Linked DNA regions of Homo sapiens: region 1 is linked to region 2. Evidence: fine-mapped expression QTL. A gene starts in region 2. The other region holds a variant in brackets. All regions are shown on one strand. Distances are from middle to middle.

Region 1 (8,330 bases), 100 kb before region 2:
CTTTCTACTCAGACGGGTCCTCTGGTGTGAGGGTTCTAGACGAAGATGGGGAATCTTCGTCTACAGAAGTTGAGAGTGGGGTGGATTTATTATTGGGCACCCCGACCCAGGCAAGTCTACATATACCCTCACAATAGCTTCCATCCACGGCATGATCAGCTCAGGGAAGGAGCCCTCAGATACTCCTGATCCGCCGGTTTTCAAAGTAGTTTATGGGAGTCACCGGGTAGCCTGGTACAAATGCAAACGCCCCTGTGTCTCCCGGTCTGGGAAGGAGGCAGGGAAACAGCATGTTTAATAGCAGTTTAAGGCCGGGCGTGGTGGCTCACTCCTGTAATCCCAGCACTTTGAGAGGCCGAGGCGATGGATCACCTGAAGTCAGGAGTTCGAGACCAGCCTGACCAACATGGTGAAACCCTGTCTCTATTAAAAATACAGAATTAGCCGGTCGTGTTGGCTCACGCCTGTAATCCCAGCTACTTGGGAGGCTGAGGCAGGAGAATGGCTTGAACCCGGAGGCCGAGGTTGCAGTGAGCAGAGATCGCGCCATTGTACTTCAGCCTGCGCAACAAGAGCAAAACTCCGTCTCAAAAAAAAAAAAAAAAAAAAAGAAAAAAAGAAAAAAAAAGTAGTTAACAGTGTTCTAGTTAACAGTACTTTCTGGTGGGGAGATGTTGACAAGACACACTTTGCGAGACGCTGCCGAGTATTTTATAGAAGGCGCAACTGAGGTCCAGAGGTCCCAACACCTGGAGGAGTTGCCAATAGAGTCAAGATTCGAATCGGTAAAAGAGCGGCCCCTGGGGTCTGGCCGCCAGTCGGCCGACCCCCTGGTGGGCTCGGGCCACTGACCTCGGTAGGGTCACGACACTGGGACTGGACCCCAAAGTTGGACCAGCCTTCAACACTGGAACCCGCCCATGCACAGCTCCACCCGGCCCCCAGGCTAAGATAGACCACGCCCCCGGACATCTGGTCCCCGCCGGAACACCCGGGCCCTCTGGTGACACGCCCCCTTTCCGGCAGGCTACTGGGCTCCGCCCACACACCTCCCGGCCTGGTTCCTAAACGCCAGCTCGGAGCAATCCCCTTGGGCTGGAGCCAAATCCCTGCTGTGATTTTAAGGAAGACCGGCAGGTCCGGGCCCCCAAGGGTCAACCCCACACACATCCCCGCACTTTCCTGTATGCAGGCCTGCGAGCGTAGAGGGAGTGGAATTCACAGCCTCCCCACCCATCCGCAGGGGTCTCCTGGGAGGAACCCACCAGCGATAGGAACACTGAAGCTGGGCTACGGCGTCCGCCCGAGCCTTTTCTTAAAGGCGCCGACCCCGGAAGCGGGGCGTCCGAGGGAGCGCGCGACGGGCCACGCACGTCCGGGCGTCCAGTTCGGGGCAGCTTCTCCGGCTGGTGGGTGGGTGGGGCAGCCTTTCAGGCAGGTATGCATGGGAGGTGGGGATCGGAACGGGGTGTTTCGACTGCAACCGCCTGGAGACCTGGCCGGTACCATTCTCCATAGTGCAGATGGGGAAACAGGGTTGGAGAGAGGGGGCCTCATCTGGGTCGTTAACAATGCGGTGCGTAGCTGTGAGGGAGTTTACACTTCTGACTTCGGGCCTTGGCTCCTGGGACGGCGCACTGGTGCAAGAGCCGCTTCTGGAGTCTGGTGGACTCGGGTTCGTGTCTTGCCTGGGACAGTCTTTTTTTTCTTTTTTTTGAGACGGAGTCTCTCTCTGGCACCCAGGCTGGAGTGCAGTGGCATGACCGCGGCTCGCTGCAACTTCCGCCTGCTTGAACTGGGTTCAAGCAGTTCTCCTGCCTCAGCCTCCCAAGTAGCTGGGACTACAGGTGCGCGTCAGTATGCCCGGCCAATTTTTTGTATTTTTAGTAGAGACAGGGTTTCACCATGCTGGCCAGGCTGGTCTCGAACTCCTGACCTCGTGATCCGCCCACCTCGGCCTCCCAGAGTGCTGGGATTACAGGCGTGAGCCACCGTGCCCAGCTTGCCTGGGACAGTTTCTACCTGAGTGACGCTGGGCAAGTCGCTTCCCTTCTCTGACCCTACTTGTATCTGAAGATGTGGCACTTAGCAGGTGCTTAATAAACGCTAGTTTGGACTTTTATCTGGAAGCAAAGGGGACCGCTGATTTTAAACCTTCAGTTAAACTTGCTTGTGACCTCTTTAAATATACAATTGTAAATTTTTTAGTTGGTGGTTTACGCTGATGTCCCGGATTATAGGTTAAATTAGGAGGAAATTTTCAGCATGTACATCCATGACAGTACACACACAATGTCAGATTCAAAGCTCCCAATTAAAGGCAATCATCTGCCTCTTGTAACATCAGTTAAGATCATGTAACATCTGGTCCCTGCTGTGTGTTGAGCTGCCTCCCAGGCCTTGGATATTCATAGACTAATGCATTGCTTGCCATGGGTTTGGTGTGATTTTCCCCCATCTTATGGATTAAGAAAGTGAAAATCAGAAATAATGACTTGCTCAAGATCACACACGCTAGGTTAGACACAGATCTGTCCTGTCCCCACATATGTGCCCTAACCTACCACCAACCCGTTTATTAGCAGAGACTGAGCTATGGGCTCAGCCCACTCCAGCTAAAAATGTGAAGAAAACGTAAGTGGCCAAGACAAGAATGATCAAATAGGTGGGTAAGGCTCTAAATGGAGTCAAGGGGGTGTCAGAGCAAGAGCACAACTATTCTCAGGCAATGTATTGGTAGAAGGGGGGGTGTCATACAAGGCTCACCTGCTTTCCTGGTTCCTCTCACTCCCAGGGTGGCAACCAACTATATCTGAGGACCAGAGCCATTTTGGGGCACCAGAGCTTGTGACCTCTCCATCTCCACCCAGCTGGGTCCAGGGGCCACTCTCAGCACTCACCTCAGCAGCTGACATCATAAAGCAGACTTGGGAACCTGGAAGCACTCTGGAGAACCTTTCCCTGAGACATGGAGCTTTGGGGCCGAATGCTGTGGGCCCTCCTGTCTGGCCCAGGGAGGAGGGGAAGTACCCGGGGCTGGGCCTTCAGCTCATGGCAACCCCAACCACCTCTGGCTGGGTTATCCAGTGCCATAGAACTGGTCAGCCACTGGACTGGGGTCTTTGAGAAGAGGGGTATCCCTGAGGCCCGGGAATCCAGTGAGTACATCGTGGCTCATGTCCTTGGAGCCAAAACAGTTAAGTTTAGTGTTGTCAAGAGGACAGGAAGAGGGAGGAGGGAGGACTTGGGGAAGGGATATCCAGGTTTTCTGTTCACTAAGAGTGCTTAGCTGAGACTGATGGGATTTTTCTGAAGGAACGTCTTAGCGCCTGGCACACACTGTAACAGTTTGTTGGATGAATGAATATATCTCTGCCTAAGTGTTCTGGGATAGACACCTGGAAGCCTGGTGTTAGCTGTGTAACCTTAGGCAGGATGCTGCCCCCTCTGGGCCCAGATGATGAGAGGGTTGGGCCTCCAGACCAGTGCTGGGCAGGCATTATCCACATAAGACACCTGGGTTGGGGGCCTTGGGCCCAGTGAGCCAGCCACTTATATTCTCTGTGGGGACAGTTTCAGAGCCTGAGGCCGGCACTTTGGACCCAGCCCTTGACCTCTCAGCAACTACAGTGTATCCGGGAGCTGAGTAGCCGTCGATTGCAGAGGTGAGCACCCATGGATCAGACCTGAAGGATGTGTTCAGGGAGCAGCAGTCCAGCCTCCCCTATCCCCACCAAGTTCAGGGAGGAGGAGAATGTCCAAGGACTAGGGAGGTGTTGGGGTGCAGGAGTGGCAAGAGTGGGGCCGGGGTACTGAATAGGAAGAAGGGAGGGAGGGAGGGTTTTGCCTCAGGAGTCCCAAGGCCCTGGAGACATGGTCTTGCCTGATACCTTTGGCCACAAGTGGTATCTCAACCCAGGCATGGTCCTGTTGGTCCTAGCTCTGTCCCTGATGACCACCCAGCTGCCCCCTCTGCAGGATGCCGGTGCAGTACATCCTTGGAGAGTGGGACTTCCAGGGGCTCAGCCTAAGGATGGTGCCCCCAGTGTTTATTCC[T/G]CGGCCAGAAACAGAGGTAGGTGTGCCACCAGGGCAAGGCAGGATCAGGATGATGGTGGAGTTCAGGGCACCAGTCTTACCCCAGGCTTCCTCCAGGGGGCACTGGGGCCCCATGACTTCAGGGACAGTGCCTTTCTAGACATGTATTTCCTCTCTGACTGTGTTGGCAGAGCCCAGAGGACAGAGGATTCCTGTTGGTCCCCTTGACTGTTATGTTCCAAGCTATCAACCCAGCCTCTAGGTCTGGCAATGGCCCAGAGTGCCTCAAATAGTGCTGCCCAAGTACTTAGCCTGTTCTGCCATTTCTCTGGGAGCCATCCCATGGCTCACCCAACCCACAGGGAACAAATGTCTTCCAGCAGCTTCTCAGGAGGCATGGAGGAAGTGGAGAGGGCTCCAGCCGGACACCTGGAGACCTGGTATCAGCTGTGCAACCTTGGGCAGGTCACTGCCCTCCTGCCATCTCTGGGCCCAGATGATGAGAGGGTTAGCCCTCCAGCCCAGAGAATCTGGTGGCCCTCTTAGGTCTACTGACTGGTCTGGTAATCACCTGTGTTGTCCCTCAAATTACTAGGACTAGGGATGTGTGGCGCAAGTGTGTTATCCCTTGGTAAGGCACCCTGGTCCTGGAAGAGACGCTTTATATGGCCCTTCTTGGACTCCCCTCTGACCTTGTAGATGACAGAGCTGGGAGCCAGAGGGCGCAGACCAGGGAGTAGAGCTGGGTGAGAGCTGGTGGGCAAGCCAGAGGGCGCCAGGTTCTGAGAAGGAGTGTTTCTAGAAAGACCTAGGCACACAAACATTTCTGGGAAAGGTTAGTTCCCATTCCCCTGCTGTGGCCAGGGGGCCCCAAACCCTTCTTTCACTTTCTCAGCTTCTGTCCCCTAGCCAAGAAACTCTCTGACCCCTCTCCTCTCCATATCATGTGGTTGGGAGGCCAGGTCCTTGCTTCACTGCCCAGTGTCAGGGCAGGGACAGTAGGGAATCTGAGGCCTTGCTGAAGTCACAGGGCTGTCAAGGAAGGGAGCATGGGGGCAGCACGTGGACTTCCTGACTCCCAGCTCAGAGCCCCATCCCTCACATGGGGCTGCCCCATCTGGGATTGGCATGACCTAGGACACAGTATGGAGACCCAGAGCAGGGTGTGGCCTGCCACCTGCAGACTTTGGGAGGCTTACCTGTGGCTCCTGAAAACACGTGATCTCTGGCGAAGAGATCATTTGCTGTCTCCGGCTTCCCAGGGTCAGGGCATGGTGACTTTTGAGTTCCTTCAGAGCTGACCTGGCACCAGCCATATGTGCCAGGGTTCTGAGTATCAAGTGTGGACTTTGGCTCCCATGTGGCCCCCTGATTCTTGGATGGGTCTGGGCCAAGAGAGCAGCTCTACTGCAAGGGGTGGGGTGAGGGGAGATGCTGCGATTGGGAGGCCAGGTGCTCATCTTGCTGTGCAGACATTTCTGAGAACTCACCAGGTTCACCCCAATGTAAAGCCACATCGGGGGATGCCTTACCAAGAACTCAAGAGGACGTGGCCTGTGGCAGGGAGTAGTGAGAATGGGTGCAGGGGATGGTTTCTGATGAAAGGGGAGTCTGAAGTGCAAACTTGCAGGAGGCATGTGCCCAGTGAGTTGCATTTTCCCTAAGGGTGAGAAGGTGGTTCAGCCCCTGGCCTGGCAGTGAATACAGTAGGAAACTCAGGGCTGGGGGTGTGAACCATTCTCACCCAGCCTGCTGTGAGGCTGTACAGGTTGTGGGAGGCTCAGTGTTTTGTCTGTGATTGGCTTGAAGGAGGCAATGCCACCTCCCTGGGTCTGCCCCACCAGGGATGCCATCCTAATAGAGGGTACTCATGGGCACTTAGGTTCTGCCCAGGCCTTGGGCCAGCCTCTTGATGGGGTATGGAGTCCATGTTGGGGCAGCAGTTCTAGGCAGAGCCAACAACTGCCTGCCCCTCACCTCTTTCCCGCATGCGTCTGTGCCCCACCCTGTTCTTGGATTCTTACCATATTCACCTGGAGGGGGTGCCCTGAGCCTGTGACCAGCATGGCTTTTAGTCTTGCCGAAAGAGCCACCAGCGTTAGGCTGAGGGAGGCTCTTCACTAGGAGGAGAAGAGAAAGTTTCTGGACTCCTTGGGCTGTTATCTACCCCTGCCCCAGGTGGCTCTACAACCAAGATGAGTTTCCGGTGCTCTGGAGTGTTATGGCAAACAAGAGGCCACTAGTGGTGGCAGGGGCTCAGTTTCTTAGCTTCTTACCCTCCCCAAGGTGGCCATCCACATACGTGGTGTGTGTCTTTGAGGTCTTTGAGTATCTCTGTGAGGTGGCTGGCCAGTGTGGCTGGCTGAGGGGTCATTCTCCAGCCAGAGTAGGTCTGTCTATGACCAGGAAACCAAGAGAGGCTTACACACCTGACAACAACTGGTCACCCTACCAACCTCTCAGCTTGTGGCCTCACCACTGAGACCACAGGCTCTCAGCCACAGCCCTATACTGCTCACTCTGTACCTGGCCCAACCTTGCAGGCTAAGCTTGCCACAAGTACCTTAGTGGTCTCCAGTAGTGCCTGGCACAGGGCTGGTGAGAGCTAGTGAATACACACTCTCTCCTGCTGGAACTGGGCCCCCTCACCCACAGGCAATCATTTGTTAGGTGCAGAAGAGGCTTGGAACATGGAGGGTTGGACCTGCTGGCCAAGTTCTGCCTGCTTTGGACTTGCCACCCTCAGGGTGGGTGAACATTGTTGCTGGGTTTGGGGGCCTGGAAGGGTGAGATGCTTTTTGGAACCCAGCACTGGGGAACTTATGTGGAAAATGGGTGTGAGTGATCTGGAGCCCTCTGCTCCATTGGGCCTGGCTGATGGCATTGGGGTGTGGGGGAGACCTGGGGGTGTGAGACTCAGAGGGTGGTGCCACAGAGAGCTTGCCCATCACTTAGAAAGTAGCCAAGAGGGCCAGGCGCTGTGGCTTACACCTGTAATCCCAGCACTTTGGGAGGCTGAGGCGGGTAGATCACCTGAGGTCGGGAGTTCGAGACCAGCCTGACCAACGTGGAGAAACCCTGTCTCTACTAAAAATACAAAATTAGCCAGGCACAATGGTGCATGCCTGTAATCCCAGCTACTTGGGAAGGCTGAGACAGGCGAATCGCTTGAACTTGGGAGGCGGAGGTTGCGGTGAGCCAAGATCGCGCCATTGTACTCCAGCCTGGGCAACAGAGCGAAACTCTGTCTCAAAAAAAAAAAGAAAAGAAAAGAAAAAAAGAAAGTAGCCAAGAGGTTTGTCTGTGGGCCAAGCCCTGCCAGTGTGGGACACACTGCGATGAGTCAGACCTCAGGTCTTCCTATTATGGCGTCTGGTGGGAGAGGCACACCCCATCCTTAGGCTAGACCTTAGGCTCAGGGTGGAGAAAGCCGTGGTAGAGCCTGGCCCAGGCTTGAGGAAGGCTTTCTGGAATAGGTAGTCCTCTTTTCAGATCAGGGAAGCACCCACTTGCTGCCCACCATCCCCAGCTCCCTGAGCCAGTCTTTCCTGAGACCTGGGGTCCCAGGAGTCCTGACCCTCTGGGGGGCTTCTCTGCCCACATCCAAAGGGATGCCTTTGAGAAGGAGCTACACTGCCCTTTCCTTGTCTCATGCCTGGCTACTCAGGTGTCCCACTCCACTGCTGGTTAGAAAAATTTTGGCCATTGGACGGCAGGAGCCTTCCACCCTTTACCCCTACCCTATGTTGGTTTACAGGCATAGTCCTTGCAGGCAGTGGCTGGGTAGGCAAGGCTTGAAACCCTCTTGTTTCCAAAGTGACAGTGTCTGAAAATGTCCTCCTGCTGCCAGGGCAGGTACAGTGCAGTCAGGCACCTCCCTCTGCACCCATGCCTGTTGACCTATGCCTGTGTATGCCACAGCCCTCAGGTCCTTAGTCAGGACCATGTCCCCCCATGGCCCATCTCCTCCAAAAGAGGGAATTCCCTGTCCCTTTGGCCTAGGAGCCTCCCTGGGGGCCTCTCAAGCCCAGCTCTGTGAGGAGGCTGGGGACACACCAGCTCCTGATTCTTGGCCACCATGAAACCACAGGCCAGGCTCAGGTGGGGCCTTGACCCCAGGCCTCAGTTTCCTCATGGGACACTTGTGAGGATTTAACAGATTAATACAGGAAAAACTCTGGGAGCAGGGTCAGGCCAGAGGGAGTGGACAGGAACTATCAGGTATGGTTCTTAGCTTTTTTCTTTTGAGATGGAGTGTTGCTCTGTCTCCCAGGCTGGAGTGCAGTGGCGCGATC
Region 2 (8,330 bases):
TATTCCAAAGCTGCCTCCTGAAAGGAGGCTTCCTAAAAGGTGTTGCTTTGGGGTAAATAAGAGGTGCTGGTGAAGTGAGACTAGCTTGCGCATCTCTCTGCCATGAAGGAAACTAGCTCCGCAGACGTTTTACTAACCACAGCAGACCCCCTCCTTGAGGAACCCAGAAGGGCAGAGGTAAGTTGGGTAACGTGTTCTTAAGTCTTCCATTTACCTGACCCTGGGGTTCATATGGGGATAAGCTCCAGCTGCTGACACCTTCTGATCAAGAGAAGGCAGAATGTCACCACTATCACCTGCACTTTGTTTGGATTTGCCTCTATACCCACTGCATTTCTCTGATGTTTTTTTCTACCATTCTGTTTGGACAGAGCATCAGATGAAATCAACTGCTGAGAGAGGGAAGTGAGTGCTGTGTTGGCACCGCTGCCAGAAACTCTTGAGAATGAGCATCGTGTGCCACTTATCCACTGCTTGCCGACTTCAGTAGCAAGAGCCTCCAGAATGCTCATGGATAAACATCATCTTTGTGGCCACACATTGTTTTATGAGCTGAGTCATCAGACTGGCTGGCTCCTTAAATGCTGCTGTGTGATTCTCTAGGCAGCAGAAAACAAGGAGAGAAGATATGAAGTGTATCTCATCGAGCTTTGTAGAGGGCCAGTATCATTCACCAAAGGTGATGGGGGATTTACCATTATGGAGTTTGCTTGTGATAAAAAATTATTGATCAACTTAAACTCTAAGAGAAAAAGATGATGCTGTCTGCATTTCTTGTAAATTATTTATAAAATTTGTTTGGGTATCGGCTATTTTTAACAGCCACCAGTCTTAACGAATTTCCTGCAGAAAACTTGATTCCTTCCTTGCTCATCGAGTTGCAATTTATCATCTAAGGTAATGAGTTAAACCCAAAAGTAACAGTGACATGATAAGTGAAACTGTTTGCATACTTTGTTTTTTAAATTGCTCTATCATGTTTATCTTTTTTATAGCTACTCAATAAGACATTGCAATGAATTTTTAATTAAAACCAATATGTCTATAACAAAGAAATTTAATTAATTAGAGTTTCTGAGTTTGCCGATTTGTGACTTGCTGAGGTAAACATCTCAGTTCTCTCTTCCAACCTATTTCATTATGGTCTCAGAAAACGTACAGGGAGATTATTCACCCAAGAGTGTATGTTAAATTCATGTTAGGTGGTAGGCACTATGTTAGTCTCTGTGTAAGGTAAAAATAATTGAAGAACAATCCTTGTCACTGAAGAAAAAAACAGATGTTTGCCAATGTGAGAAGCAGACCCATTTGATCTCTTGGAGAAGGGTGGAATGAGTAAGTGCTACAGAAAAGGTCATAATGGGTGCAAAAAATCCAGCTGAACTGAGGGCAGTTGGGGAAGCCTTCTTCAGGAAAGTGGCCCTGAGACAGCTCTTGAAGCATGATGCAGATGTGTGGGTTTCAAGAGTAGAGGACACAAGCTGAGGGACACTCTATGCAAAAACCCAGCCAGAACAAGGCAATGGTCTGAAGTTGGGATGGCCCTGGGGAATTCTGGGAAAGTAGTTTCCAGGAGGTGACAGGGTCAGAACGCAGACCTTCAGGTGGTGAGAATCAAATGAATTACATTGAAATAAAAGGATTTGGAATGGATGATTCTCCTCTGTAGTCAGATGGAGAGAGGAGGAAGAGAGAGGGAATGGGGGGATGAGGGTACCAACAGGGCAGGTCTTCCTGGGACCGCAGGAGTCTGTGGAGCAGGTCAGGGTGAAAATGGGAGACAGGGCAATGATAGTTGGGGATCCTGAGAAGTAGCAGGCAGTGAGCCTGGTGGTGGCGAGAACACAAAGAAGAGCAGTTGGAGAGGAGGGGAGGTTACTGTGCTGAGGGTCTCGATTTTCAGAGGCAAGCTGGAAGGCAGCTCATATGCTGAGAGAGTGTGTGTGTGGTGTGTTGAGTGGACTGGGAGCCTGAGGAAGGAAAGGATCAGAGCAGATGCTAGGGGGATAAGAGAGCAGGTGCATGGTCCTGCTGAAGGCCAATGTGTGCTATGCCCTTTTGCTTCAACTCACAAAAACAATCTAAATTTATACAAACAGCAAGAGTGTAGGAGTCCAGGCTTACTAAGTCCCTTCCTTCTCACTTTGGTCCCTTCTTTTCCCTTCCCTGGTTGGGTTTAATGCCCTTCCACCCTGGAGCTGAGGTGTGCAATCATGGAGAATTTTCTTCATCTGGGAAAGCCATAATCTAAGATGGATTCAGACTGGGAACAAGAGTATAAACTTTGGAAAAACTGGCCCTTAGGCTCTGTGACTGTCATCACATACAGCAGACAAGGGAGTGAACTTAGAGGATGAAATAAGAGCTTTAAGGTTGTTCCCTGAAGGCCTGCGTAGCTCAGCCCCACTTGTTGAATAGCTACCTGGAGAGTTTTGTAAGAATGTGGCTTCATTCCATAGAATACTTCCATGGTGGCCACCGGGGAGGGGTCTATCTTCTTGGAACAGTTAGCTCTTTCGTTATGTTCTTGGACACCCCTGCTACCCCTAAAAAGAAGTGTACCTGGCTATTGAGAAATTCTATCATTCACAGAACAGACATTTTTCTGGGCGGGAGTGGGCAGCTATGATTAGTGAGAGGAGGAGCCTAAAGGTCCGAAGGTGGGAAGGGGTGGCCATAACCCAGGGGAGCACAGTCAGGCCTGGGAGGAGTTACCAATCATGACACTTTGAACGAAGAATCAACAAGATCTGTTGATTGCAAGATATTCTTCTATTAGTCTGGCTTCCCATGCAACAACTATACAACAGGTGCTGGGTTGGTGGTGAGGGTTTAGAAAGTTGATTTTAGCCTGGAGCTTGCCTTCTGGGAGCTGACAGTCTTATAAGGGAAATAAGACAAACCGAACATAGCTCCAATTCCAGACAAAGAAGGAAAGGAGACTATGGGTCAGGGCAGGCTTCCTGGAGGTGAGGGGCTGAGCTGGGCTTTGAAGAGTGGTGGTGTCTGAGAGTGCTAGTGAAGGATGACACCAGGGTTTTGACTTAGTAGTGCTAGTGACAGAGATGGGCAAATCTGCTGGGATTAGAGCATGTGGTCCAAATGTAGGTGGAAAGGAGAAGTCCTGCAGTTCCTGTTCTTTGGTAAGTGGTTGACTTGGGGGTCACAAGGTGACATTTACAGGCATCAGAATGAATGGATTCTTAGGGAGGAGAGAGAGGAGGAAAGTTTCCGGTAGGAGCCAGTTCTTAGGGCTCCAAGGGAGGCAGACACCCAGGAGCAGCAGATGCCGTGTCCTGGGTAGGAACACGAAGGGCCCAATGAAGCTCTTCCTTACTAGCAAGGCGGCTGTTGATTGTTCTGGCCCCAAACATTCACCACTCAGGCCATCTCAGAGAAGCAAGAACCCAGGAGGTGTCAGCGGCCTCAGCCCACAGGGGATCCAGGAGAGAGGGGCACGAGTGCACCCCACCTGGTTCCCTCGTGGCGACTCCATCCTGCGGGCCCTGGGAATGCACAGGGTGGCTCCGGGGACCTTTCCGACAGCACTGTGGGTGACACTGGGATGGGTCTGAAAATGGTGTCGTGTCCTCCTTTTCTGGATCTCCCCTCTCCGACCAGGAGGCCTGTGGCCATCTCGGGGCGCAGGCAGGAGGCACTGGAAGCGGAAGCGAGTGGGGAGTCCGGGTAGAGGGAGTCGCCCACCTGACCGGCTTCGCCCCCTCCGGGGTTTGCTGCAGCTGAGGGCCCCGGACCAGCGATTCTAGAAGCCGGTCCGGGGCCGGGCAGTCCAATAGCTTCTCGCGGATTTCCCTCCGCTGGCGCGCAGCAGCGGCGCGTGGATTCGCGCGCGGGCTCGGGACGGCGCGAGCCCGGGCAGCGCGAGCCCCTGCGCGGCAGGGAGTGGCGCATGCGCGGGCGTCCTGCGAGCCCGCTGGGGCGAGCCGAGCCGCGGCGGCGCCGGGAGCCGGGCGGCGGAGCTGTGAAGAAGCAAGCGGCGGCACGGGAGCAGCGGCGACGGACAGGTGGCGAGCCTTCGCCCGCGCCGCCAGGGGCTGCTGGGCCACCCGCGGAGCCTCGCGGTCCAGACGTGGCGGGGGTGGCGGCGGCATCCCGGACGGCCTGTGAGGGATGCGCCGCCCACTGCCCCGCGCCGCCTGACCGTCCCCGCCTCGACTCGCGGTGCGCCACAGCCGGGCCCGCGGCCGTCCCCGCCGCGTTGTCGCCCGGTCGCCGCGCCCGCGGGGCCGCGCCCGGCACGGCCATGTGGACCCCCACGGAGGAGGAGAAATACGGCGTAGGTAGGTGAGGCTCAGGCCTGGCCGTGGCGGGGGTTCTGGGGGACGCGCCCAGCTCCCGGCCCCGCCTGGATTCGCATCCTCGTGCCCCCGCCACTGCCCGCAGGCTGCGCGGCCTCGGCGCGGGGCGAGCGCGGGGTGGGGGCAGGTGCGGGTGCGGGTGCGGGTGCGGGGGTGGGCGCGGGTCTCTGTGCAGAGAGGGCGGCAGGGGGCGCTGGCGGTGCGGCCTTGGCAGGTGCGGCCCGCGGGAGGGGTGGGCAAGGCCCGGGCAGTTGCCCGAGGTTTCTGGTGTGGGCCACGGGGCAATTTTACCCGATAAACCAAATTCTGGGAATATGTTTTCTCCCCTCCAAAAGCTCGATTTTAATGAGTTTCCGCACCTGAATTGATGAGCCCGATGGCTGTTTATTTTTGATCTGGAACCTTACAAGAAAACGGATGAAAAACGTTGACATCATTTTCCCAGTTCAAAAATTTGGACATTTGACTGCAAATGTTTGATCTGTTTTAATTTGTTTTGCCTTTAGTATTAGAAATAATACCTTACGATGGGAAATGTTTTTGGACATGTATCAATGTTTATACGGTTTTTTTTTTAAACCCTGTTTTCAGATGAGACCTTATTCCTCTTAGAAACCTTTTTTTAATGTTGTAAGTGTTAAACTCCAGAAGCTAAATAATTCTTACAATATTCAACTTCTTTAAAAAGAATATTCAGTAATTTAAAGTATTGAATGTTTTACAATGTTAGTGTTTTGTGGCAATTACATGATAGAGTTAAGCCTCATTGCATCACCTATCATCTTGTTCAGTTAGAAACAGATTTAAAATGTTGAGTGTACAGGTTTTGTTTTTCCTAAGCTCGTAATGGAAAATTTTAGATAGGAAACCTGTCTAAACATAGATTTTTGTTTCCCATCTTTACCGCAATTTAATCAAGATTTAGTTCACAATTCACTACAAAATAACTTGAAACTGCAGTGGTAACGAATGTTTTGGAATGCTATCAGGCAGGTTATCGTGTGAAAATTGAATTTATTTAAATTCGAGGACCAGCAGAGAGGTCTTCTATTCTGGTAGAAGATCTTGTTTTAAAAGGTAACTTTCTGAAACAATTAGGTATGTTAGGATGGAGGTGATAAAGGGAGCTCTGGTCCTAGAGTCTCTATTGAGAAGGAATTGAGAAATGATGCGAAGAGCTGGGATTCACCTCTAGGGACATTTTACCCCTTCTCTTAGAGTATTCCCTGAATACTGAGTTGATTCTGTGAAGTGAGGAGTTGGTGGTTTATCTTCTCCATAACTCGCTCCCAGAACTGCTGAACTAGAATAACAAATAATTGATGTGAGTGGTCAACTCTCCAGTGGCACCCCATGATTGATTTTTTTGGAGGGGGGAGGAGCCCTATTTTGGCGGGGGTGGGGGCGTGGGGGGAGGAGCCCTTGAATAGTGGACAAAGTGGAATTCAGAGTCCTAGCTTCTCTTTACTGGTGGTGTGGGCAAGTAATTTAACATCATTTAACGTCATTTTATTAATGTATAAATTGGGGATAATGTTTACCTATCTTACAGGATTGTGAAAGTGAAATGAGAACGTGCTGAATGCTTAATAGTTTCTTCTTTTCCCTTAGTATTTAGACTAATAACACTAAGTGTGTTCTGAGACAGAGCCAGTGCAAGGTAATCAAGATAGGTACATGTGAATCTCAAAGCACTAGGATTTGGTGTGTGATTTTCCCAGCAAGATGCAACGAAATTCTTGCATTCCTAGGATTGTGTTTTTAGCTTTAGAAAAATTGTTATTCCCTTTGGAGGGCCACAGCATTGGGCTCAGGGCAGAGCTTAATGCTTGCTAAATGAGAGAGACAGTTACACTGAAGACATTTTCATAGCAGCTGTGGTTTAGCATAACTTAGATGCCTTTTCTACCAAACCAAGCAACTCTCTATTTATCTCACAGTCTTCCACTGTCCCTTCCTTAGTTATGATCTAAAAGTTTTTGTGTAAATTGTTTAAAACTCAGGACACATTTTTTTTCATAAGGATGTTAGGGCTACACTTCTAGAACTTTTCATAAAATCCACTTTATAAAGTAGCTTATACATTATACTTATGAGAAAAATAGTCAATTAAAACGGCATTTTTGCTGCATCATTTGATTGCTATGAGGGCTAGCTTGAAAATATAACCATTATCATTTTCCTGTGAGAAAATGTTTGAGTTTCAGCTTTGATTTTTATGACTAACTTGGAGCACAGATTTGTGTCTTTGTTTGTCAACCTATAATCACATAGCAAGGAGGGAAACCCCTTACACTTACTTCCTACCAATTTGGAGAAATTTGTGGAGGAGGGCCTCGAGGGCCTCCTTTTGCCCTGATGTTAGTGAGGGAAGGAGTCCCCTGTTGCAGCAGTACAAAGGGTTTTTTCCACTGCAGCTGTTCATTTGTATTTGACATTGATAAGGCTTTGAGATCCTGTAGTAATACTTATTAAATTTTTTATAATATAGGAATTCTGTACAGGTTATAACATGACTGAATTGTTTGGTTTATTCATTTAGGATGAGGTGATGACTGAGCCCCCCTTTCCATTGTAATATTCTGTGAGTGATTTTAGGCAGTGGGGAGGACATTATCCTTTCTGAGGGTCAGTGATAGGCCTGTCAGTGTGCCTGGGACTCTCACTTAGGTAACCCCATGTCGATTCCCAGAGTAGTCTTAATGTTATCATTATTACACAGATAAAGAAACTGGATCCCAAAGGTTGTTAATTTTTTTTTTTTTGTCCTTCAACGATTGTATATTTTTCTTAATTTTCTTCTTGGCAGTGGGCAGTATTTTGTGAAATACTTGACTGTCTTGCTTTCTTTTTGTGGTACTGTAAGGTACTGTTCTTTACTGTACCCGTTCGCCCGTGTTTTGACTTCTTATGTCCCTTTCCCTCTTAGAGAATCTCTGCTTTCCTTTCTGTTGCCATGAATGCTTGGAAAGTCCTGCATCCTTCCATTCTTTATTCTACCTTTCCAAGAAGCTTCCTGCTCTAAAGTGTATTAGGTGAGAAAAATCCAGCTATTTTTGTGAAACACCTGTCTTTCCCTATACTGACTGTACCCAGAGTACCAAATATAGAATACAAAAACCAAGAAAATGCTTTTCTCACCCTCTAACAGGAGCAACAGCAGGAGCAGCAAGCACCAACAGTTTTTAAAACAAAAATGTTTGTAATTACACTCCTTGAATAGAAAAGTGGTAAAGGTTTGAGTACATAGGTATTAGTTTGACGTCTTAGAAGTGGAAGCTGCTTCAGAAGGTCATCTTGTTTATTCTGCTGCTGTCATTAGGCAATTTTTTTTTTTTGAGAGGTGGGGTCCTGCTCTTGTCATCCAGGCTGGAGTGCAGCGGCATGATCATAGCTTACTGCAGCCTTGAACTCCTGGGCTCAAGCGATCCCCCTGCAGCAGTCTCCCAAGTAGCTGGGACTACAGGTGTTTACTACCTTGCCTGCCTAATTTTTTTTTTTCTTTTTTTGAGACGGAGTCTTGCTCTGTCGTCCAGGCTGGAGTGCAGTGGCGTGATCTCGGCTCACTGCAAGCTCTGCCTCCCAGGTTCATGCCATTCTCCTGCCTCAGCCTCCCGAGTAGCTGGGACTACAGGTGCCCGCCACCATGCCCGGCTAATTTTGTTTTTGTATTTTTAGTAGAGATGAGGTTTCACCATGTTAGCCAGGAGGGCCTCAATCTCCTGACCTTGTGATCCGCTCGCCTCGGCCTCCCGAAGTGCTGGGATTACAGGCATGAACCACTGCGCCCAGCCTTGCCTGGCTAATTTTTAAATTTTAATTAAAAAAAATTTTTTTTAGTGACATGGTCTTGCTATGTTGCCCAGGCTTGTCTCAAACTGCTGGCTTCAAGCTATCCTCCCACCTCAGCCTCCCAAGTCACTGGGATTATACCTGTGAGCCACTGTGCCCAGCTAAGGCAAATTTTTGAGTAATTTAGGGCATTTATTGCTTATTTTTTATTAATCCCTC

What was found. PIP is the estimated chance that this variant, and not a neighbour inherited with it, causes the effect.
Region 1: its variant is fine-mapped to the expression of DOCK3 in whole blood (TOPMed, PIP above 0.99).

What each region holds. Positions count from the first base shown.
Region 1 is chr3:50,568,137-50,576,466 of GRCh38, forward strand. It overlaps HEMK1 (HemK methyltransferase 1, mitochondrial release factors N(5)-glutamine), which reads left to right and starts at 1,386. Exons shown (of 11, transcript NM_016173.5): 1 at 1,386-1,438; 2 at 2,795-3,196; 3 at 3,574-3,665; 4 at 3,979-4,072. The coding sequence starts at 2,969. It also overlaps a transcript of C3orf18 not described here. RefSeq lists an enhancer at 1,191-1,310. The variant T/G (reference allele first, on the strand shown) is at 4,057.
Region 2 is chr3:50,671,000-50,679,329 of GRCh38, forward strand. It overlaps DOCK3 (dedicator of cytokinesis 3), which reads left to right and starts at 3,928. Exons shown (of 53, transcript NM_004947.5): 1 at 3,928-4,301. The coding sequence starts at 4,265. LINC02019 (long intergenic non-protein coding RNA 2019) reads left to right here. Exons shown (of 2, transcript NR_183733.1): 1 at 1-177; 2 at 372-1,052. It overlaps MIR4787 (microRNA 4787), which reads left to right and starts at 4,081; the gene lies at 4,081-4,164. RefSeq lists a silencer at 3,892-4,181.